Linked DNA regions of Homo sapiens: all the other regions are linked to region 1. Evidence: fine-mapped expression QTL. A gene starts in region 1. Each other region holds a variant in brackets. All regions are shown on one strand. Distances are from middle to middle.

The links. PIP is the estimated chance that this variant, and not a neighbour inherited with it, causes the effect.
Region 2: its variant is fine-mapped to the expression of FLVCR1 in whole blood (TOPMed, PIP above 0.99).
Region 3: its variant is fine-mapped to the expression of FLVCR1 in putamen (GTEx, PIP above 0.99). The same link has a PIP of 0.9 or more in caudate, cerebral cortex, nucleus accumbens and subcutaneous fat.
Region 4: its variant is fine-mapped to the expression of FLVCR1 in whole blood (INTERVAL, PIP above 0.99).

Annotation. Positions count from the first base shown.
Region 1 is chr1:212,855,996-212,861,653 of GRCh38, reverse strand. It overlaps FLVCR1 (FLVCR choline and heme transporter 1), which reads right to left and starts at 3,379. Exons shown (of 10, transcript NM_014053.4): 1 at 2,464-3,379. The coding sequence starts at 3,201. FLVCR1-DT (FLVCR1 divergent transcript) reads left to right here and starts at 3,516. Exons shown (of 2, transcript NR_027286.1): 1 at 3,516-3,888; 2 at 4,736-5,050. RefSeq lists silencers at 2,929-3,138, 3,219-3,278.
Region 2 is chr1:212,711,414-212,717,071 of GRCh38, reverse strand. No RefSeq gene overlaps it. Among named protein-coding and RNA genes, the nearest start is that of BATF3, 14 kb to the right of the region's middle. RefSeq lists an enhancer at 3,974-4,527. The variant C/G (reference allele first, on the strand shown) is at 3,471.
Region 3 is chr1:212,901,380-212,907,037 of GRCh38, reverse strand. No RefSeq gene overlaps it. Among named protein-coding and RNA genes, the nearest start is that of FLVCR1, 46 kb to the right of the region's middle. The variant T/A (reference allele first, on the strand shown) is at 2,199.
Region 4 is chr1:212,828,298-212,833,955 of GRCh38, reverse strand. It overlaps SPATA45 (spermatogenesis associated 45), which reads left to right. Exons shown (of 3, transcript NM_001024601.3): 3 at 3,695-3,815. The coding sequence ends at 3,714. Among named protein-coding and RNA genes, the nearest start is that of SPATA45, 17 kb to the left of the region's middle. The variant C/T (reference allele first, on the strand shown) is at 2,923.

The DNA of each region.
Region 1 (5,658 bases):
AAAGCTAGATAGAAAGAATATAACTGGTAATTACAAGAGAGGGTGGTAATACAGTACTGTGATTGAGACGTAAACAGTGCCAAGACTGGGGAGACCACGTAATTTACTATCCATCTAGAATACTCTTCAGAATGAAAGGGACTTCATTAGTAATCATACCAGACAACAGGTGTACCACCTGGACTATCCCAAGCAAACTGGGACATATGATCATGGTAGCTAAGAGAGTACTTTGGGGGAGCACCTTATATAGAAATATTATTCAGCTATCAAAAAGAATGAAAAGAAATGGGGTTCAGAAAAAGTTCCTGGAGGAGCAAAGATCTGAATAAGAAATTGGAGTTAGTCAAGTGAAGAAATATTCCAAGCCAACAGGACATTACATACAAGGCCAGGAGGGAAAGGGCACGACCTTGTGAGAAACTATAAGTAGGCATAGTTCTGCACAGAGCAGAGAAAGCATATGTCTGTGGGGACAGGGGTTGTGCATACAGATAAAGTGGAAGGGCTGGCAGGAGGCAGATCTGGAGGGTCCCATATGTCACACTAGAGTGTTTGAATTTTATCCTAAGGACAATGGAAGCCACTGCAGGGGGTAAGGATGTGCCCGGAACAGATTTGCACATTGTAAAAGACCACGCTGGATGAATGCGAGAACAGAGGGAAGACAGCAAGGGCTACAGATAGGGAGGACAGTTAGCAAGCTCTAGGTGAGAGCTGTGGGTGGCCCAAACCAAGACAGTGGCATTAGAGATAAAGGGAAATGAGCAAGGAGAAAGCAATTTTGAGTGGTGTGTTCCCATGAGATATCCAAGTAGACTATCCAGCTGGCCAGTATCTGTATGAGTCTGAAGCTCCTTTATTTATTCAACATGGTTTTATGGAGAGTAATAAATGCTGGTGATACAGCTGTGTACATTCAGACCACATTCCTATTTTCATGAAACTTACAATCTAATGGTGGGGATAAGAGAAAAGTAATAGGTAAGTAACATATGAACATGTAAACAATAACATATGAGACAGGGATGAGTGCTATAAGGAGAATTAAAGTAAAATAATGTAAAGAGAGTGACTGGGCAACTCTAAATGGGATCAAGAAATGCTACTGAATATTTAAAAATGAATTTAAACTGAGAGATGTGTGACAAAGAAAATGTAATCATGGCCGGGCGTGGTGGTTCACACCTGTAATCCCAGCACTTCGGGAGGCAGAGGTGGGCAGAGAGCTTGAGCTCAGCAGTTCGAGACAAGCATGAGCAACATGGAGAAACCCCATTTCTACAAAAAAAAAAAAAAAAAACCACACACACAAAAAACTTTATAATAGCTTCTGTCCAAACCTGCAGATGCAACCAACTCAAGTATCAGTCATAAATTATTTTGGACAAACAACTATAGTTCAACCTACTCCATCTTCTGTACTTTTAGATAAGGGAAATGACTATAAAGCAATAAGCATGTAGATTCTCATGCCTTGGCCACCTGAGTAGCTGGAATTACAGGCATGCACCACACCATGCCCCACTAATTTTTGTGTATTTGGTTTTGCCATGTTGGCCAGGCTGGTCTCAGACTCCTGGCCTCAAGTGATCCGCCTGCCTCAGCCTCCCAAAGTGCTGAGATTACAGGCGTGAGCCACCACGCCCAGCCCAGAACTTTTGGTTAGCAGTCATTTATGTGTCCCTTATGTGCCAGGAACTGTGCTGACTGCTAATATATGAAATTAAAAGGGAGCTGTTCACAATGACCTCTCAAAATGGAAACAATCTTCCCAGAACCCAATACCTTCCTTTCACAAATACACTGGTGACAAAAATAATACCCCAAGTCTTGTTCGTTACTGCATTGACAAATTTTCCATGTTAGGCATACACAAGCCAATACAGTTAATTATTATTATTATTATTATGGTTACAGTTTATTATTATTATTTGAGACAGAGTCTCACTCTGTCACCCAAGCTGGAGTGCAAAGGTGCAATCTCCGCTCACTGCAACCTCCACCTCCCGGGTTCAAGAGATTCTCCTGCCTCAGCCTCCTGAGTTGCTGGGACTACAGATACCCGCAAGCAGGCCTGGCTAATTTCTGTATTTTTAACAGAGACGGGGTTTCCCCATGTTGCCCAGGCTGGTCTGGAACTCCTGACTTGAAGTGATCCACCCACCTCGGCCTCCCAAAGTGCTGGGATTACAGGTGTGTGCCACCGCGCCCGGCCCAGTTAATTATTTTATAGGTAATTTTCAAAGCAAGATGACAAGGTCGTTTGGAAAATTTTGTCCTTACAAAGAAATTTATAGCCCACTTCAATCCAAGACGGCCTCCTATTCAACGGCTTCATCTCCTCTTTTATAGACAAATACCTCCTGGGGCAGTTCATCCATACAGGCCATAGTTCTCACGGCCTATGACTTTTTCCGGTCTTTTAAGGATCTGACTTTCACCTACCACTCCAGTACTTACCTGATTGCCCAGCACGGCGGTGGCACAAGCTGTGGACACCTCTTTGGGCCCAAACCACACTGAGGCGATGCGGGAGGGCAAGCCCAGGATGAACACCTGGGCCACCGAGCACAAGCACTGGCCCAACATGGTGACCCAGAAGAGATGCTGCTGCACACTGCCGCACTTGATCCAGGCACCCAGGCAGTTGAGGCCGGAGCCCAGCAGGGCGGTGAGCCGCAGGCCTCTGGTGTCCAGCAGCCAGGTGGCCGGGAAGATGAGGGGCACGTAGGCCAGCATGTACACCATGGACAGCCAGTCGATGTGCAGCAAGGTGACACCGTAGAAGCCCTCGAAGACGTTGCTAATGATGCTGTACTGGATCCACTGAAAGGCGTTGACCAGCGAGTACAGGCTGAAGATCAGGAGCACCACGAAGCGCCGCGGGGAGAGCGCCGTAAGGGGCAGCGGGCTGCTCTCGGCCCCCGGGGTCTCAGCTCCCGCGCCCGCAGGCAGCAGCCGGGCCTGGGTCTCCTCTTCTGGGGCCAGTGGAGTCTGAGGCCCGCCCAGAACTCCCGAGGCGGCAGCGAGGCTGTCCCGGGGGGCCCCATTCACCGGGAAGGTGCCCGCTTTGGGCCCGTTCTGCAGCTCCACGCTCTCCTTCCCAACGGGCGCGCCCCTCGGCAACGGGAGGTATCCTTTCGCGAGCGGGTGTCCGGGCGCCACCGCCGCCCCCTCCTCATCGTCTGGCCGCGCCATATCCCAGGCTCCCCGGCGCCACCTCGCTCCCCCGCCCCACTCCCCGACTCCGCTCTCCCGGCCCACAGCCCGAGGTCCTCCTGGGGCCCCACCTCCAACCCCTCGGCCCACCGCTCCTTCCCCGGTGGCGCGCGCCGCGAACCGCAATCCGCGCTACCGCGTGAACAGATGAAGGTCTCCTCCCCCGCGCCGCGCGGCAGTCACCCCTTGTCTGGTCCCGCCCCTAGAGTCGCGCGTCCTGCATGACTACGGCCCTCCGGCCAATCAGCGTGCGCCTTTGTCCGGCGCGAGAGCCAGTCGGGGAGCTACCGGGCGAGAACTTCGGGAGGCGGGGGAGGAAAGCGGCCGGCGAGCGCTGGCTGACATTTTCCTGCCCGGAAGGATGCATGGCCCGGGGTCTCCTGCACCTGAGGGTGGGCGGGAGGCGGCCCCGCGGGTTGTGTTGCTGGAAAAAGGGGTCTCGATCCAGACCCCAAGAGAGGGTTCTTGGGTCTACTTCAGGGAAGAATTGGAGGCGAGTCACAGAGCGCAGTGAAGGAAGCAAGTTTATTGGAATCTACTCCGTTAGAGAGTGCAAGTCCTCAGACTGCAGGAGGAGGAACTCCCGTCCTTCGGTAGTGTCACTACTTAGAGGCAGCTGTGAGGAGCTGTGATTAATCGTGGAATGTGCTGATGTGCCCACTAAAGGTAGGGGCTGTTGGTGCACTAATGACCATTAATCCTTCAACCTAAGCCTGCGCATTGACGTTATCTCTGAGTAGAGGGCTGGGCCGGGCTCGGTGGCCACGTCTGTAATCCCAGCACTGTGGGAGGCCGGACAGGAGTCTCCCTTGAGCCCAGGAGTTCGAGACCAGCCTGGGCAACATACTGAGATGCCATCTATTTAAAAAAAAAAAAAAAAAAAAAAAAGCCAGTAGCCAGGCGTGGTGGTGCATGCCTGTAGTCCCAGCTACTCAGGAGGCTGAGGCAGGAGAACTACTTGAACCTGGGAGGCGGAGGTTGCAGTGAGCTGAGATCGCACCACACTGCCCTCCAGCCTAGCCTGGGCGACAAAGTGAGACCTTGTCTAAAAAAAAAAAAAAAACTCAGGACATCTGGACAATTCCGCAGACTTGGTGGGAGATGTCCTGTATGGCCATAAATATTGTGTAATTATAATTGTTGGTCAGCTTAGAATGCGGCTATTTTCAGACCTTTAGCATTAACCTTATAGGTGCCTTGTGAGTGCCTAGTTACTCACTTTAACATGCAGTCGCTCTAGCCATGTTTTATTAAACCAGATGCCTGGTAAGCAGTGGCTCCTCTAACAAGTGGGCAGCTTGGAACTGGGAACGAGAGAGCCACCGAAACAGAATGAGGGAGACAAAGAAGTGGGCATCACCCTTAACTCCACAAGGGCTTCCCAAGGGCGCTGTACCGTACGCAGGCCCAGGACGAACTTTATTTCTCGCCCCAGCATCGCTGTCCTTGTCGGTGAGACCCTGGCTTTAGGGCAGACAGGACCACGTTTCATAAGTTCATGCTGTCCCAGCAGAGGAATAACGCCAGAAAGTGTTCCAGTACAACCAGAGAAAGAGAGTCCATGAGAAATCTGCCCTTGTGAAGTTGGAATCCCCTCAACCTCACCCCGCTGACTTGAATGAAGCGACTGAGACGGGCTATGATGGAGCAGATCCGGTTGCTCGACCTTCTCCCTTGCACCAACACATGTAGTTAATAGTTACTGGACATGCATATTCAGTGGGTTCCAGGTACCAAACTTGTATTGAATGGTATGTGCCAGACACCGTCTTGAGATCTGGAGAATAAAAAAATAAAAAAATAAAAACGAGACATCCAGAGCACAGTAGCCTTGCGGTCTTCCTGGAACTAGAGAAAATTCAGCCCTTCTGCTCCTTGGGAAGCTATGTTTGGGAAAAAAAAAAAAAGAGAGAGAGAGAGACTCCAAAGAGTTTGTTATTAAATTTAAGTTCAAACTAGGTGTATATAGTACAAAAGTTCTTACCATGCATTTAATCTTAAAATGTGCTGATATCTAGAACCCTAAAACCCTGCACTTTTTTATTGCCTCTTACATTATTATTTTGGTCATGTATGAAATATATCAGGCATCTCTCGGTACAGGTGAAATGCTACATGTTCTAAACTAAGGAATAAGTGCATTATTATAATGTCTTCCTTGGCCAAACTGTATAAATCCCCCCCTCCGCCCGCCCCGGCCAACATCCCTTCCCTGCTTTTTTTTTTCTTTCTTTCCTAGTGCTTACCTTCACCTAAAATGTCCTATATTTTTACTTTTTTTTTCTGGTTATTTTCTTTCTTTCTTTTTTTTTTTGACAGTCTTGCTCTGTCACCCAGGCTGGAGTGCAGTGGCGCGATCTCGGCTCACTGCAACCTCCACCTCCCAGGTTCAAGCGATTCTTCTGCCTCAGCCTCCCGAGTAACTGGAACTACAGG
Region 2 (5,658 bases), 140 kb after region 1:
TGAGGTTGGGAGCTCGAGACCAGCCTGACCAACACAGAGAAATCCCATCTCTACCAAAAAAAAAAAAAAAATACAAAATTAGCCAGGCTTGGTGGCGCATGCCTGTAATCCCAGCTACTCGGGAGGCTGAGGCAGGAGAATCGCTTGAACTTGGGAGGTGGAGGTTGCAGTGAGCCGAGATCGCGCCATTGTACTCCAGCCTGGGCAACAAGAGCGAAACTCTGTCTCAAAACAAAAAAGAAAAAAAATTTATAACTAAGCAGAGTGTATTCCAGGAATGGAAGTCTGGTTAAATTTTTGAAAATCAATGTAATCTACCATATTAATAGTCTAGAGAGGAAAAATCACATGATCATATCAATTGATACAGAAAAAGCATTTGAAAACAAAATCAACAATGATTCATGATAAAAATTCCCAGAAAAAGTAGGAATGGAGGGGAACTTCCTCAATTTGATAAAGGACAGCTACAAAAACCCCACAGCTAGTATTATTATACTTAATGATAACAGATGGAATGCTTTCTCCTCTAAGATCTGGAACGAGGCAAAAATGTCCACTCTCAGAAGTTTATTCAACATAGTGCTGGAAATTCTAGTTGGTGAAATAAGGAAAGAAAATAAAAGAAAAACTGTATAGATCAGAAAGGAAGAAATGAAACTGTCCTATTTGCAGATGACATGATTGTCTACACAGAAAATCCCAAGGAATGCACCAAAAACTCCTAGAACTTACAAATGAGTTTAGCAAGGTCACAGGATATAAGATACACCTACAAAAATCAGTTGTATCTCTCTATACTAGCAATGAACATGTGGACACATAAATAAAAATACAATACCATTTGCAATCACTCAACAAAAAGTGGTTGAGTGTAAACCTAACAAAACATGTATAGGACTTATTTGCTGAAAGCTACAAAACATTGATGAAGGATGTCAAACATATAAATAAAGAAGAGACACAACATGTCCATGGATGGAAGACTCAATCTGGCCAATTCGCTCCAGATTTATACACATATTTAATGTAATTTCTATCAAAATCCCAGTAAGTAAGTAAAATCCCAAAATACATATACACAAGATTATTTTAAAATGTATATGGAAAGGCAAAGGAATTAGAATAGCTAAACCAATCTTGAAAAAGAAGAAAGTAGAGAGACTCAGTCTATCCAATTTCAAGACTTATTATATAGCTATAGTGAAGACTGTGGGATATTGGCAGAGAGGTAGACACACAGATCAAGACCACACAGAATAGAGAACCCAGAAGTAGACTCACACAAATATGGCCAGCTGAGTTCTGTCAATGGTGCAAAAGCAATTCAAGGAGGAAAGATAAGTCTTTTCAACAAATGGTACTGGAACAATTGAGCATCCATGGGTAAAAGAAACAAACAACCAGCCAGGTTTGGTGGCTCATGCCTGTAATCCCAGCACCTTGGGAGACTGAGGCAGTAGATCCCTTGAGGCTAGGAGTTCAAGACCAGCCTGGCCAAAATGGCAAAACCCCGTCTCTACTAAAAAAACAAAAATTAGCCATGTGTGGTGGTGCATGCCTGTAATCCCAGCTATGTGGGAGGCTGAGGCATGAGAATTGCTTGAACCCGAGAGGCGGAGGTTGCAGTTTGAGCCTAAATCGGACCACTGCACTCCAGCCTGGGCAACAGAGTGAGACCCTGTCTCAAAAAAAAAAAAAAAAAAAAAGTAAGGAACATCCACCTAAGTCTCACGCTTTATGGAAAAATTAACATGGGTCACACACTTAAATATCAAATATATAACTGAAGCATTTAGAAAAACTAGGAGAAAATCTTCAGGATCTAGGGCTAAGCAAAGAGTTCTTAAACTTGACACCAAAAGCATCATTCATTTTTAAAAATGGATAAATTGGATTCGTTAAAATTAAAGATTTTGCCTTTTGAAAGATGTTGTTAAAAGGATGAAAAGACAAGCTATAAAGTGGGAGAAAATATTTGCAAACCGTGTATCTGACAAAAGATTAGTATCTTGAATATATAAATAACTCTTGGCTAGGCATGGTGGCTCATGCCTGTAATCCCAACACTTTGGGAGGCCAAGGCAGGAGGATTATTTGAACCCAGGAGTTCAAGACTGGGCAACATAAAGAGACTGTATCTCTACAAAAAGTAAAAAACAAAACAAAACAAAACAAAATTAGCCAGGAGTGGTGGCACACAGCTATAGTCCTTGCTACTTGGGAAGCCGAGGTGGGAGGATCACATAAGCCCAGGAGATTGAGGCTACAGCAAGCCGTGATTGCACCACTGCAATCCAGCCTGGGCAAAAGAATGAGACTTTGAAAAAAAACAAAAAAGCCTCTCAGAACTCTGAACTGCAAAACAGCAAGCAACATAATTATAAAATGCACAAAAGACATAAACATTTCATGAAACGGCATATATGGATGACAAATAAACACCTGAAAAGATGTTCAACATTAATAGTCAATAGGAAAATGCAATTTAGAACCATAATAAGATATCATTACACACCTATCAGAATGAATAAAATAAAAAATCATGACAATATCAAATGCTGGAGAGCATGCAGGGAAATTGTATCACTCACATATTGCTGGTGGGAATTAAAAATATACCTCCACTCTGGAAAACACATTGGCAGTTTCTTAGAAAACTAAATGTTCAACTACCAAGTGTCCCAGCAATTGCACTCTTGGGCATTTATCCCAAAGAAATGAAGACTTATGTTTACACAAAACTCTGTACCCAATTTTTTTTTGAGACAGAGTCTCACCGTGTTGCCCAGGCTGAAGTGCAGTGGTATGATCATGGCTCACTGAAACCTCCACCTCCTAGGATCAAGCAATCCTTCTGCCTCAGCCTCCTGAGTAGCTGGGTCTACAGACATGCACCACCGTGCGTGGCTAATTTATCTATTTATTTATTAGAGACAAGGTCTCACTATATTGCCCAGGCTGGTCTAGAGCTCCTGAGCTGATGAAATCTTCCTGCCTTGGCCTCCCAGAGTGCTGGCACTTACAAGCATGAGCCACCATGCCCAGATACACAAATGTTTATAGCAGTTTTATTTGTAATAGCCAAGAACTAGAAAACAGCCCAGATGTCCTTGACAAGGTTAAACACACTGTGGTACATCCCTGCCGTATATGGAATACTACTCAGCAACAAAAAAGGAGCAAACTATTGATACAGGCAACAACTTCCATGAAATCCTCAGAGAATTGTGAAGAAAAGCCAATCTCAAAAGGTTATGTGCTGTAGGATTACATTTATATAATGTTCTTGAAATGACCAAATTACAGAAATGGAGAACAGATTTGTGGTCACCAGGGGTAAAGGAGCGGGTGGGCAAAGCATGAGCAAGAAGTGGTTGCGACTAAGAAAGGGCAACAGGAGAGATCCTCGTGGTGATGGAAACGTTTTGTGTCTTGGCTGTATCAATGTAAATATCCTTTCTGATTGT[C/G]ATATCATACAGAACATAGGTTTGCAAGATTTTACCATTGGGGGAAACTGAGTATAGGGCACATGGGATTTCACTGCAAGAGAGTCTACAAATATGTCAAAATAAAAAAGTTTAATTTTTAAAATGTGACAAAACTATAAACACAAAATTTAGGATAGACAGATGGGGGAGAAAGGGGCTGGAATAGTGAAGAGAACAGAGGTAAATAAAAGGGATTGTCAGTGTTCTGGTTCTTGGATTAGGTGATGAGTTTAGAGATGTCTGTTATATTATTAACAAACAAATGAGTAATAAATAAACACAAGAAGTATATTCATGAAACAACAATGTCAGAGTAGCAGGAACCAAGGATAAAGGTTAATCCAATTTTGCCTACGTGAGGTCTATTGGAGGGAAATAACAAACTGGCTCTGCTTTTTTGAAAAGAAGACTGAGATGCTAATTTTTTTTTTTTTCCTGAGACAGTCTCTGTTGCCCAGGCTGGAGTGCAGTGGCATGATCATTTCCTCCAACTCCTGGGCTCAAGCAATCTCCTGCCTCAGCCTCCCAAGTAGCTGAGATTACAGGTGTGTGCCATTTTTCATAGAGATGGGGTCTCACCATGTTGCACGGCTGATCACAAACCACTGGGCTCAAGCAATCCTCCTGCCTGAGCCCCTAAAAGTGCTGGGATTACAAGCGTGAACCACTGGCCTAAGGCTCTTTCTGCCCTAAACTATCAAAGAGCATGGGCTATTGTTAAGAAAGAAAAGAGATTTCTTGAAACAGCCCCAGGCATCCACTTTGAGTGTTAGGGGAACTACCAAAGTTGTTAGTGTCTTTCTAAGGAAATCCACTGCTGTCAGTAGAAGTCATTTGTGGTTTATTCATTCAGCAGATGTGTGACCAGGATTGTGAGCACAGCTCTGTGCCAGGCACAAGAAGTTGGAAATGGATCCAAGAAAATGCAAATCAGTTGTAGGTGGTAGTAGGTCCTACAGGAAATGAGTGAAATTATTTTTTTAAGTACGTCACAAATGGCACATATCTTATTCATGGTTTAAAACAGGATAATGAGCAATCTCTTCAGATACTACACTACTAGAATTCCTATGGTGTGGCATCATTTAGGGCTTCAGTAGAAACCAGCATTACATGATTTTAGCAAAAACACATTTTTGCTAGGCGCCTCTCCCTTAGAAACAAAATTGGGGAAAATAAGAAAAAATAAGTTATTGTTGGTTGTGGTGGCTCACGCCTGTAATCTCAGCACTTTGGGAGGCCAAGGTGGGTGGATCTCTTGAGGCCAGGAGTTAGAGACCAGCCTGGCCAACATGGCAAAACCCCGTCTCTACCAAAAATACAAAAATTAGCCGGGAGTGGTGGCGCACCCCTGTAATCCCAGCTACTCACGAGGCTGAGGTACAAGAATCGATTGAACCTGGGAGGCGGAGGCTGCAGTGAGCAAAGATCCCACCACTGCACTCTAGCCTGGGCAACAGAGCAAGACTCTGTCTCAAAAATAATGGTAATAATACTTTCTTAATTTTTGAATGAAGTATGCCACCATGATGCACGTAGAAGTCATTAAACATTCTCATGTGTACTTTGATAGTATGTGCTGGACCTCTTTTTGGGGTAACTCTTCTATCTAATCCAAATGTCACTTGCTGCAACATGACTATTTATTCATTATTGACCAATTAAAATTGTATTAAGTGCATGCTCTGCCTGAGTTTGAATCCCAGCCCAGTCACTTCTCTGGGTAACGTGGGCAAGTTTCTTCAATTGTCTGCGCTTCAATGCATCATTTCTAGTGCTGGTTATTACTACAGCTAGCACTGAGTTGGGAGGGGCCAGCATAATGAAGACATTGCCTTTGTCCTCATATGGTTTGTAATCTAGGAGGAGGAGACAGATTTGTAAATGAGGAGTATGTATATACATATTATAAAATCTGGAAGGATACACACAAAATTAATGACCAGAATTGAAAGTGATGATCATAGCTGGGCACGATGGCTCACCCCTGTAATCCCAGCACTTTGGGAGGCCGAGGCAGGCGGATCCCTTGAGACTAGGAGTTCGAGACCAGCCTGGCCAACATGGTGAAACCCTGTATCTACTAAAAATACAAAAATTTAGCCAGGTGTGGTGGCGGGCGCCTGTAGTCCCAGCTACTCAGGAGTCTGAGGCACAAGAATCGCTT
Region 3 (5,658 bases), 45 kb before region 1:
AGAAAGGTCTTAGATTTTAAAGTTCCTATTTCTTATAGGGTAGCCGGTAACAGATAAAATGCCATGTTATTATTTTATATTTTAAACAGTTTCATGGCTTTTGCCTCAAATATTTAGCTGTTTGTAAAACTAAATAATGCTGGAAACTTTATCCTGAAATATCATACTAATTATAATTTAAATGGCATGACAACAGATGGTAGTAGCAGCTTTTTATAACTCTTCGTTTACACAGAGGTAGTATCTTGCTTTGCAGCTACCAATTCTCTTCTCTTTGGTCTCATTAATAAAACCACCCTAAATCTTCTGCCTGTCTTTCCCTTAGGCTCCTTCTTTGTCTCCACTAACTCTTTATGTTCCACCTACCTCCTTTAATTAGAGGCCTTTGATCCTTGATCCTCCCTTACTCTTTATTCTCTCCATATTCTGGCATTGTGAATCATTGATCAATGTAGTGATAGCCAGTTTCTCCTTTCTAGAAGCAAGACCCTTTTCAGGGAATCCATAATGTCCAAACTCTTTTCATAATAATACAAAGAAGTTATATACCTTTTTCACTATGTTGACATTTGCAATGATGGTGCAAAAGTGGTGGCGGGCAAAATTGCTGTTCTACGCTAAAAGTTTAGTCCCACTTGTTTATGTTTGCTTTTGCTGTCTCTGTTTTTGGTGTCATATTAAAAAAAAATCATTGCTCATCAATGCCTATGTTTCCTCCTTACATTTTATGATTTCAGGTCTTATATTTAAGTCTTTGTTGTTGTTGTTGTTGTTATTGAGATAAGGTCTCATTCTGTCACTCAGGCTGGAGTGCAGTGGTGCAATCTCGGCTTACTGCAGCTTCAACCTCCTGGGCTCATGAGATTCTTCCAACTCAGCTTTCCTGAGTAGCTGAGACCACAGGCGTGTGCCACCATACCTGGCTAATTTTTAAATTTTTTTTGGTAGAGGCGAGGTCTTACTATGTTGCCCAAGCTGTCCTCAAACTCCTAACTCAAGTGATCCTTCCACCACGGCCTCCCAAAGTGCTGGGATTACAGGCATGAGCCACCACACCTGCCCTGTCTTTAATCCATTTGAGTTGATGTTTGTGTATGATGTAAGATAAGAATCCAATTTCATTTTTTTTTTTTTTTTGCATGTGGTTATCCAGGTTTCCCAACAGTATCTATTGAAGACTATCCCTTCCACATTGTGTATTCTTGTCACAGATTAATTGACAGTGTATGTATGAGTTTATTTCTGGGCTTTCTGTTCCATTGGCCTAGTTTGTTTTTATGAGAGTATCATGCCGTTTTGATTACAGTAACTTTGTAATATAATTTGAAATCAGGAAGTGTGATACAACTTTGATCTTTCTCAAGTTTGCTTTAGCTATTCAAGTTCTCTTGAGGTTCCACACAAATTTTAAGATTGTTCTATTTTTATGAAAAATGCGATTGGAATTTTGAGAGAAATTGTGTTTAATCTTAAGGTTGCTTTGGGTAGTTGGACATTTTGACAATATTGATTCTTCTGATCCATGTACTTGGGATATCTTCCCATTAATTTGTCTTCAATTTCTTGCATCAATGCATTATAGTTTTCATTGTACAGATTTTTCACCTCCTTGATTAAACTTATTTCTGAGTACTTTATTCTTTTTGATCTTATTGTAAATGAAATTTTTTGCTTAGTTTTTCAGATAGTTCATTAGTATATAGAAATGCAACTGTTTTCATATGTTGATTTTGTATCCAGCAACTTTCCTGAATTTATTTTTAAATGTTTTTTCATAGAATCTCTAGAGATTTTTATACATAAGATCATGTTATCTGCACACAATTTTAATTCTTCCTTTCAGGTCTGGATGCCTTTTATTTCTTTTTCTTATCTAATTACTCATGTTAGAACTTCCAGTCCTACTAAATAGAAGTGGTAAGAGTGGACCTCCTTGCCTTGTTCTGGATCTTAGAGGAAGAGATTTCAGCTTTTTCACCATTGAGTATAATGTTAGCTGTGGGCTTTTCATAAATGATCTTTATTGTGTTGAGGTTAAGCTCCTTCTATGTCTTTTTTTTTTTTTGAGGTTTTATCATGAAAGGGTGTTGAATTTTGTCAAATACTTTTTCTGCATCTATTGAGGTGACTATATAATTTTTACCCTTATAGTATATCACATTTATTGAATTGTATATGTTGAACCATCCTTATATCCC[T/A]GGGATAAATCCCATTTGATCATAGTGTATGATCCTTTTAATGTGTTGTTAAATTTGGTTTGCTAGTATTTTGTGGAGGATCAGGGATACTGGCCTGTAATTTTATTTTCTATAATGTCCTTGACTGGTTTTGGTATCAGGGTAATGCTGACAATTAGTTTGGAAGTGTTCGTCCTCTGAAATTTTATGGAACACTTTAAGAAGGACTAGTATTATTTTCTTTGAATGTGTGGTAGAATTCACCAGTGAAGCCACTGGGACTTTGGTTTTTCTTCTACGGACAATTTTTGATTACTGATACAATCTACTTACTTGTTATTGGTATACTCAGATTTTCTATCTCTTCATGACTCAGTCTTGGTAGGTTGTATGTTTATAGAAATTTATCAATTTCTAGGTTATCCAGTTTGTTGAAGTACAATTGTTCATAATAGTCTCATGATTCTTTGTATTTCTGTGGTATCAGTTGTAATATCTCCTCTTTCATTTACAATTTCATTTGAGACTTCTCTTTTTCTTACTCTAAGGTTCATCAATTTTGTTTTTCTTTTCAAAAAATACAACTCCTAGTTTCACTGATCTTTTCTATTATTTTTCTAGTCTATATTTCATTTATTTCTGTTCTCATCTTTGTCATTTACTTCCTTCTACTAATTTTGGGCTTAATTTGTTCTTCTTTGTCTAGTTCCTTCAGGTGTAAAGTTAGGTGATTTATTTAAGATATTTCTTCATGTGGCCATTTATTGTTATAATTTCCCTCCTTGAACTGTTTTTGCTGCATTCCATCAGTTTTGATATGGTAATGGAAATAGAAAGTATTTCTATTTTCATTTGTCCCAAAATATTTTTTGATTTCCTGTTTGATTTCTTCGACTCACTAGTTGTTCAGAATCTGTTGTTTAATTTCTACATATTTTTGAATTTTCCAGTTTTCTTTCTATTGGTGGGTAATTTCATATCATTGTGAAATAATATGTAATTGTGTAATTTCCTATCATTGTAAGCATCAGAGAAGTTGCTTAATATGATATTATGTCTTAAGGAATATATGATTATTTCAATTGTATTTCTTATTTAAATGTATTTTAAAGACATTCTTTTGGGCCTAACATATGACCCATCCTGGAGAATGTTCCATGTGTACTTGAGGAAAATGTGTACTCTGTTGCTATTGGATGGAATATTCAATATATGTCCATTAAGTCCATGTGGTCTAAGGTGTAATTCAAATCCAATGTTTCCTTATTGATTTTGGCTGGATGTTCTATCAATTGTTGCAAGTGGGGTACTGAAATCCCCTATTAATTCTACTGCTATTTCTCCTTTCAGATCTGTTAATATTTGCTTTGCATAATTTTAGGTAGTCCACTGTTGGCACACACACACACATGCACACACAACTTGTTGGATCCTCTTAAATAATTGACCCCATTAAGGCCAGGCACAGTGGCTCATGTCTGTAATCCCAGCACTTTGGGAGGCCAAGGTGGGCGGATCATGAGGTCAGGAGATCGAGACCATCCTGGCCAATGTGGTGAAACCCCGTCTCTACTAAAATACAAAAAATTAGCTGGCCATGGTGGTGCAGGCCTATAGTACTGGCTACTTGGGAGGCTGAGGCAGGGGGAATTGCTTGAACCTGGGAGGCGGAGGTTGCAGTGAGCCGAGATCACACCACTGCACTCCAGCCTGGCGACAGAGCGAGACTCTGTCTCAAAAAAAAAAAAAAAAAAAATTGACTCCATTATCATTATATAATAGTCTTCTTTGTCCCTTGTTAAAGTTTTTTAGGTGTTTTTTTTGTTTGTTTTTTGACAAGAGTCTCACTCTGTTGGCCAGGCTGGAGTGCAGTTGCACGATCTCAGCTCACTGCAACCTCTGTTTCCCAGGCTCAAGCGATTCTCCTGCCTCAGCCTCCTGAGTAACTGGGATTACAGGCGTCTGCCACCACGCCCAGCTAATTTTTGTATTTTTAGTAGAGATGGGGTTTCACCATATTGGTCAGGCTGGTCTCGAACTCCTGACCTCAGGTAACCCACCTGCCTTGGCCTCCCAAAGTGCTGGGATTACAGGCGTGAGCCACCATGCCTGGCCAAAGTTTTTACTTAAAGTCCATTTTGTCTGATTTAAATATAGCTACCCTGGCCAGGTGCAGTGGCTCACAACTGTAATCCCAACATTTGGGAGGCCAAGGCAGGCAGATCACCTGAGGTCAGGCATTCAGGACCAGCCTGGCCAACACAGTGAAACTCCATTTCCTAAAAATACAAAAATTAGATGGGTGTGGTGGTGCACACCTGTAATCCCCACTACTTGGGAGGATGAAGCATGAGAATCACAAGAACCCAGGAGGTGGAGGTTGCAGTGAGCTGAGATCATGCCACTACACTCCAGCCTGGGTGGAGTGAGACTCTGTCTCAAAAATAAATAAATAAATAAAGCTACCCTGCTCTATTTCTGTTTCCATTTGTATGGATTCTCTCTTTCCATCCCTTTACGGCCTATGTATATCTTTAAAGCTAAAGTGACTCTGGTAAGCAGCATACAGTTTGGTTTTTAAATCCATTTAGCCAATCTATGTCTATGATTGGATAATTTAACCCATTTACATTTAAAGTAATTATTGACAGGTAAGAACTTACAGGCATTTTGTTGTTTTCTGGCGGTTTTAAAGATCCTTTGTCCTTTTCTTCCTCTCTTGCTGTCTTTTGTGATTAGATGATTTTCCTTAGTAGTATACTTAGATCCCTTTCTCTTTATCTGTGTGTGTCTACTACGGGTTTCTGCTTTGTGGTTAAAACAGGCTTACATAAAACATCTTATTGTCTATTTTAAGCTGATAGCAACTTAACTTTGTTCACACACAAAAACTCTACACTTTTATACGCCATTTTATGCTTTTGCTGTCACAATATTCATCCTTTTATATTGTGTATCAATTAATGAATTACCAAAGCTAGTTATTTTTAATATTTTTATTTTAGCCTATACACGAGTTAAAATGATTTACACATAACCACTGCAGTATTAGAATATTCTGATTTTGACTATATACGTATCTTTACCAGTGAGTTTTATACCTTTTTATGTTTTCATATTAGCATTAAAATTAGCATACTTTTGTTTCAGCTTGAAGAACTCCACTTAGCATTTCTCGCAAGGTAGGTCTGGTGGTGATTTAACTCCCTCAGTTTTTATTTGTCTGGGAAAGTTAATCTTTCCTTTTCTGAAGGACAGATTTATCAGGTAAAGTATTCTTGGTTAGCAGTTTATTTTTCTTTTTTAAATTTCAGCATTTTGAATATATCATCCTACTCTTCTTGGCCTGCAAGGTTTCTGCTGAGAAATCTGATAGCCTATGGGGTCTCCCTTGTATGTGATAAGCTTCTTTTTCCTTGTGCTGCTTTAAAAATTCTCTTTGATTTTTGGCTGGGCACAGTGGCTCATACCTGTAATACCA
Region 4 (5,658 bases), 28 kb after region 1:
CACTTTAAATCAAAAGCTAGAAATGATTAAGCTTAGTGAGGAAGGCATGGCAAAAGCCAAGATAGGCCAAAAGCCAGGCCTCTTGTGCCAGTCATTTATCCAAATTATCAATGCAAAGGAAAAACCCTTGAAGGAAATTTAAAATTCCCTTTAGTGAACACACAAATGATAAGAAAGCAAAACAGCCTTATTGCTGATAGGGAGAAAGTTTCAGTGATCTGGACAGATGAACCCAGCCACAACATTTCCTTAAGTCAAAGCCTAACCCAGAGCAAGGCCCCAACTCTCTTCAATTCTGTGAAAGCTGAGTCTCTCTGTCACCCAGGCTGAAGTGCAATGACGTGATCTCAGCTCACTGCAACCTCTGCCCCCAGGTTCAAGTGCTTCAGCCTCCCAAGTAGCTGGGATTGCCTGCCACCACGCCTGGCTAATTTTTTTTTTTTTTTTTTTTTGTATTTTAGTAGAGATGGGGTTTCGTCATGTTGGCCAGACTGGTTTCAAACTCCTGGCTTCAAGTGATCCACCCATCTCGGCCTCCCAAAGTGCTGGGATTATAGGCTTGAGCCACTGAGCCCGGCCAGGAGGCCATTATTCTAAGTGAAGTGACTCAGGAATGGAAAACCAAATATTGTCTGTTCTCACTTATAAGTGGGAGCTAAGCTATGAGGATGCAAAGGCATAGGAATTATATAATGGACTTTAGGAACCCCAAGGGAAAGAAAGGTAAAAGAGGGGCAAGGAATAAAAGACTATATGCTCGGTTGATGGGTGCACCAAAATCTCAGAAATCACCGCTGAAGAACTTACCCATGTAACCAAAACCTACCTTTACCCCAAAAACTACTGAAATTAAAAATAAACAAAAGAAACCACCCTATCTAAGCAGCACTCCTCAACACTCTATAATCCCTTACCCAGCTTTCTTTTTTACCACAGTGTTTATCACTCCCTAATGAAGGCTAGGCTCCTTGAAGGCAGGGATGGTATCTGCTTTTTTCACCACTTTATCTTCAGTCCCTAGAACAGTGTCTGGCACAAATTAGGAACTCAGGAAACGTTTCCTGGCTGATTGAATAAATGTTGGGACATGGAATATACTTTCCCAGAAGTAGTGGTAGAACTTACCTCATTCCTCTCGAGACCAATAGCTATGTCCTTGGGCAATGGCTCACAAACCTAAGAGTTTCTCACAGCAACCTTAGTTGGTTGCTGTGGAATAATCTTTAGAAATGCAGGAGGGTAATAATACAGTAATTTTGCTGGACATATTCAATACGAATTGGAAGGCACTGTACTCCTTTCCTTTGCATACCTGTGCAAGAGGAAGAAACACTCATTTACTCTTTATTCATTCAACGAATATATATCAGTGCTTACTTGATGTCAGGCACTCTTCTACGTGCTTGTCAATACAGTGATGAATAAAATCTTGCCTCAAAAAGCTTAGGTTTTGGTGTGCTGGCTCATGCCTGTAATCCTAGCACTTTGGTAGGCTGAGGCAGGAGGATCCCTTGAGCCCAGGAGTTTGAGAGTAGCCTGGGCAACATAGAGAGACCTCTTCTCTATTTCTAAAAAAAAAAAAAAAAAAAAAAAAAAGCTTAGATTTCACTGGGTAGAGAGCCAGATAAACAAGTTAAAAAATAGTACATTTCAGCCGGGCACAGTGGCTCACGCCTGTAATCCCAGCATTTTGGGAGGCCGAGGCGAGTGGATCACCTGAGGTCAGGAGTTCGAGACCAGCCTGACCAACATGGTGAAACCCCACAAAAATTAGCTGGGCATGGTGGTGCATGCCTGTAATCCTAGCTACTCTGGAGGCTGAGGCAGAAGAATCACTGGAATCCGGGAGGAGGAGGTTGCAGTGAGCAGAGATCGCGCCACTGCACTACAGCCTGGGCAACAAGAGCGAAACTCCGTCTCAAAAAAAAAAAAAAAAAAAAGGAAGTAAATGTCCGATCAGATAGTGATAAATGGGTAAGAGCTATGGGGAAACAGAAAACAGCAGGGTGGGGGATAGGAAGTGTTGGATGGAGGGTGTATTGCTGCCCATATAACTATATGGGGATTACTATCCAGGGCATGAGGGATGACCCAGGACTCCTGGGTTCCTTGAGGAGTCCAGTGTAAACAGGGATAAGGGACAGAATGAGATTAGTCCTGATGGTCGAACCTAGCGGTGGTCTAACCTGGTGGGGAGGCCTGTGTGTTGAGGGGAAGTAATGTTACAGATTTTGCATAGAGTATTTGGAGTTCTGGGTGATCCTCTTTGCTTCTATTAATAGTGACGTGAAGACTAGGAAAGAAGTTCTCTTAGTCCGAGATTTCCAGGCCCTCTTTTCAATCTTCCACTTGGAGATGTGGAGCCCAAAAGGGGGGCAGTTTATTTAAATATATAGAATTAAAAACACCTGGGTTCAAGTTTTGCCTCTGTCATTGACTAGTATCATGCTTTTAGTAATTTGAGGTTTTTTTTTTTTTTTTTAGAGGCAGAGTCTTGCTCTGTCACTGGGGCTGGAGCGCAGTGGTGTGATCATAGCTCACTGTATCCTCAACCTCCTGGGCTCGAGCGATCCTCCTACCTCTCAGCCTCCCGAGTAGCTGGGACTATAGGCATGTGCCACCATGCTTGGCTAACTTTTGTATTTTTTTAATAGAGTCTGGATTTTGCCATGTTGCCCAGGTTGGTCTCAAATTCTTGACCTCAAGCAATCTGCCTGCCTCAGCCTCCCAAAGCGCTGGGATTACAGGCGTGAGCCACCGTGCCCAACCATTTGGTGTTTCTTTCTTTCTTTTTTTTTTTTTAATTTATTGAGACGGAGTCTCACTCTGTCACTTTGTCACAGGCTGTAGTGCAGTGGCTCGATCTTGGCTCACTGCAACCTCTGCTGCCCGGGGTTCAAGCGATTCTCCTGCCTCAGCCTC[C/T]AGAGTAGCTGGGATTACAGGTGTGCACCACCACACCCAGCTAATTTTTTTTGAGATTTTTTCTTGCTCTGTCACCAGGCTGGAATGCAGTGTTGCGATCTCGGCTCACTGCAACCTCCACCTCCCGGGTTCAACTGATTTCTCCTGCCTCAGCCTCCTGAGTAGCTAGGACTACAGGCGCATCCCACCACACCCAGCTAATTTTTGTCTTTTTAGTAGAGATGGGGGTTTCAACATGTTGGCCAGGATGGTCTCCATCTCTTGACCTCGTGATCCGCCCACCTCAGTCTCTCAAAGTGCTGGGATTACAGGCGTGAGCCACAGCGCCTGGCCGCCATTTGGTGTTTCTTTTTTTTTTTTTGGAGTCGGAGTCTTGCTCTTTCGCCCAGGCTGGAGTGCAGTGGTGTGATCTCGGCTCACTGCACGTTCCGCCTCCTGGGTTCAACCGATTCTCTTGTCTCAGCCTCCTGAGTAGCTGGGACTACAGGAGCGCGCCACGACGCCCGGCTAATTTTTGTATTTTTTTAGTAGAGATGGGGTTTCACCATCTTGGCCAGGATGGTCTCGATCTCCTGACCTCGTGATCCGCCCACCTCGGCTTCCCAAAGTGCTGGGATTACAGGTGTGAGCCACCGCACCCGGCCCATTTGGTGTTTCTAAACCTTAGTTCCTGTATCTGAAAAACAATACTCTGCCCTCCAGGGTTATTTTAAAAACCATGAAATGTGTTATAAGTTATATAACAAATACTTTTTATTTTTTATTTTTTCAGATAATGCCATATTTGGATAAAGTGCATCTCCAGAGACACACGGAAATACATTCTCTTTGATTCTTCTTCAGTGTGTCTAAATTATTTACAAATTATTAATTATAAACAAAGCTAAACAAAAGTATTCACTAGATCCCTCAAAAAACATTAAGTCACATAAAACATATCTTTATTCATTCCATTCTATCATTTAAACTTAGATGATTTGAAGAGAGGATTTGAGTTTTTTAGTTACTTTCAAACATGAATACCTAAGAGTTTAGTTTACAGTGATCCCTTTTTTTTTTTTTTTTTTTTGAGACAGAATCTTGCTCTGTTCCCCGGGCTGGAATGCAGTGGCATGATCTCAGCTCACTGCAATCTCCACCTCCTGGGTTTAAGCTATTCTCCTGTCTCAGCCTCCTGAGAAGCTGGGACTACAGGCGCACGCCACCACACCCAGCTAATTTTTGTATTTTTAGTAGAGATGACATTTCACCATGTTGGTCAGGCTGGTCTTGAACTCCTGACCTCAGGTGATCCACTCGCCTTGGCATCCCAGAGTGCTGGGATTACAGGTGTGAGCCACCATGCCCAGGCAATCTTCTCCTTAGTAATCTAAAATGTTTAAATAATAGTTTATATTTGTTTCTATAACTCAATGGAATATATTGACCAACCCCACTGATCAGGTTGAAGGCTAAAAAGTTAACACTTGCTTATAAATGATAGATTAACTTCCTCTGTTAAAGTTATGGTTTTGATTATTTGAATAAGGAGATATTTGAGAGGCTAATATAAGGTGCCTGTAGACAGGGCTTTCTGTTACATTACGTTGTCCATCCCCACAGTGGTGATGGTTAGAATTATCTCATGGCCACATCCTATTTGGCTACTATCACCTCCGTTTCATTGCTTCTTGGATCACAGTCTCTTCAAATCACTTTTTTTTTTTTAGACGGAGTCTTGGTCTGTTGCCCAGGCTGGGGTGCAGCAGTGTGATTTGGCTCACTGCAACATCTGCTTTCCAGGTTCAAGCAATTCTCATCTCAGCCTCCTGAGTAGCTGGGACTACAGGTGTGTGCCACTATGCCAGGTTAATTTTTGTATTTTTAGTAGAGACAGGGTTTCACCATGTTGCCCAGGCTGGTCTCGAACTCCTGACCTCAGGTGATCTGCCCGCCTCAGCCCCACAAAGTGCTGGGATTACAGGCATGAGCCTCTTCAGATCTTAACTTGGCTTATGTTCCTTTGTGTGGTTAAGAACCTAGTCCATATGCCAAGCAGAGCACTGCCTGGCCTGGAACCCAGAGCTTCTTGGCATTTGTATTTATTTCAATAAGACATTCACTTTTTATTTGGTTGCCCTCTACTTCCACAGGAAGCTCAGATTCATAGAGAGCCAAAGCATTCTGATATTAGAAGGGATATGGATAAGCCAGCTGGCTTAAAACCCTATGTCAGTCAGGACTATATAGTAGGGCACAGTGTGGATAAGACTCATCAACCATGAGAAAATGTTAAAAATAATAAAAACAAACGACACAGAACTACAGCTAATTTTTCACTTCCCAAAAGGCAAATACCTAGCCAGGCAGTGGTGGCAGATACCTATAGTCCCAGCTACTCAGGAGGCTGGAGTGAGAGATCACTTGAGTCCAGGAGTTCAAGGCTGTAGTGTGCCAGGATCATGGCTGTGAATAGCCACTGCCCTCCACCCTGTGCAACATGGTGAAAGTCTGCCTTTTTTTTTTTTGACACAGGGTCTCATTCTGTCACCCAGGCTTGAGTGCAGTGGCATGATCATGGCTCACTGCAGCTGGACTTCCCGGTCTCAGATGATTCTCCCACCTCAGCCTCCTGAGTAGCTGGGATGACAAGTGTATGCCTGGCTAATTTTTGTATTTTTAGTAGAGATGGGGTTTCGCCATGTTGCTGGTCGTGAACTCCTGGCCTCAAGCAATCCGCCCTCCTCAGCCTCCCAA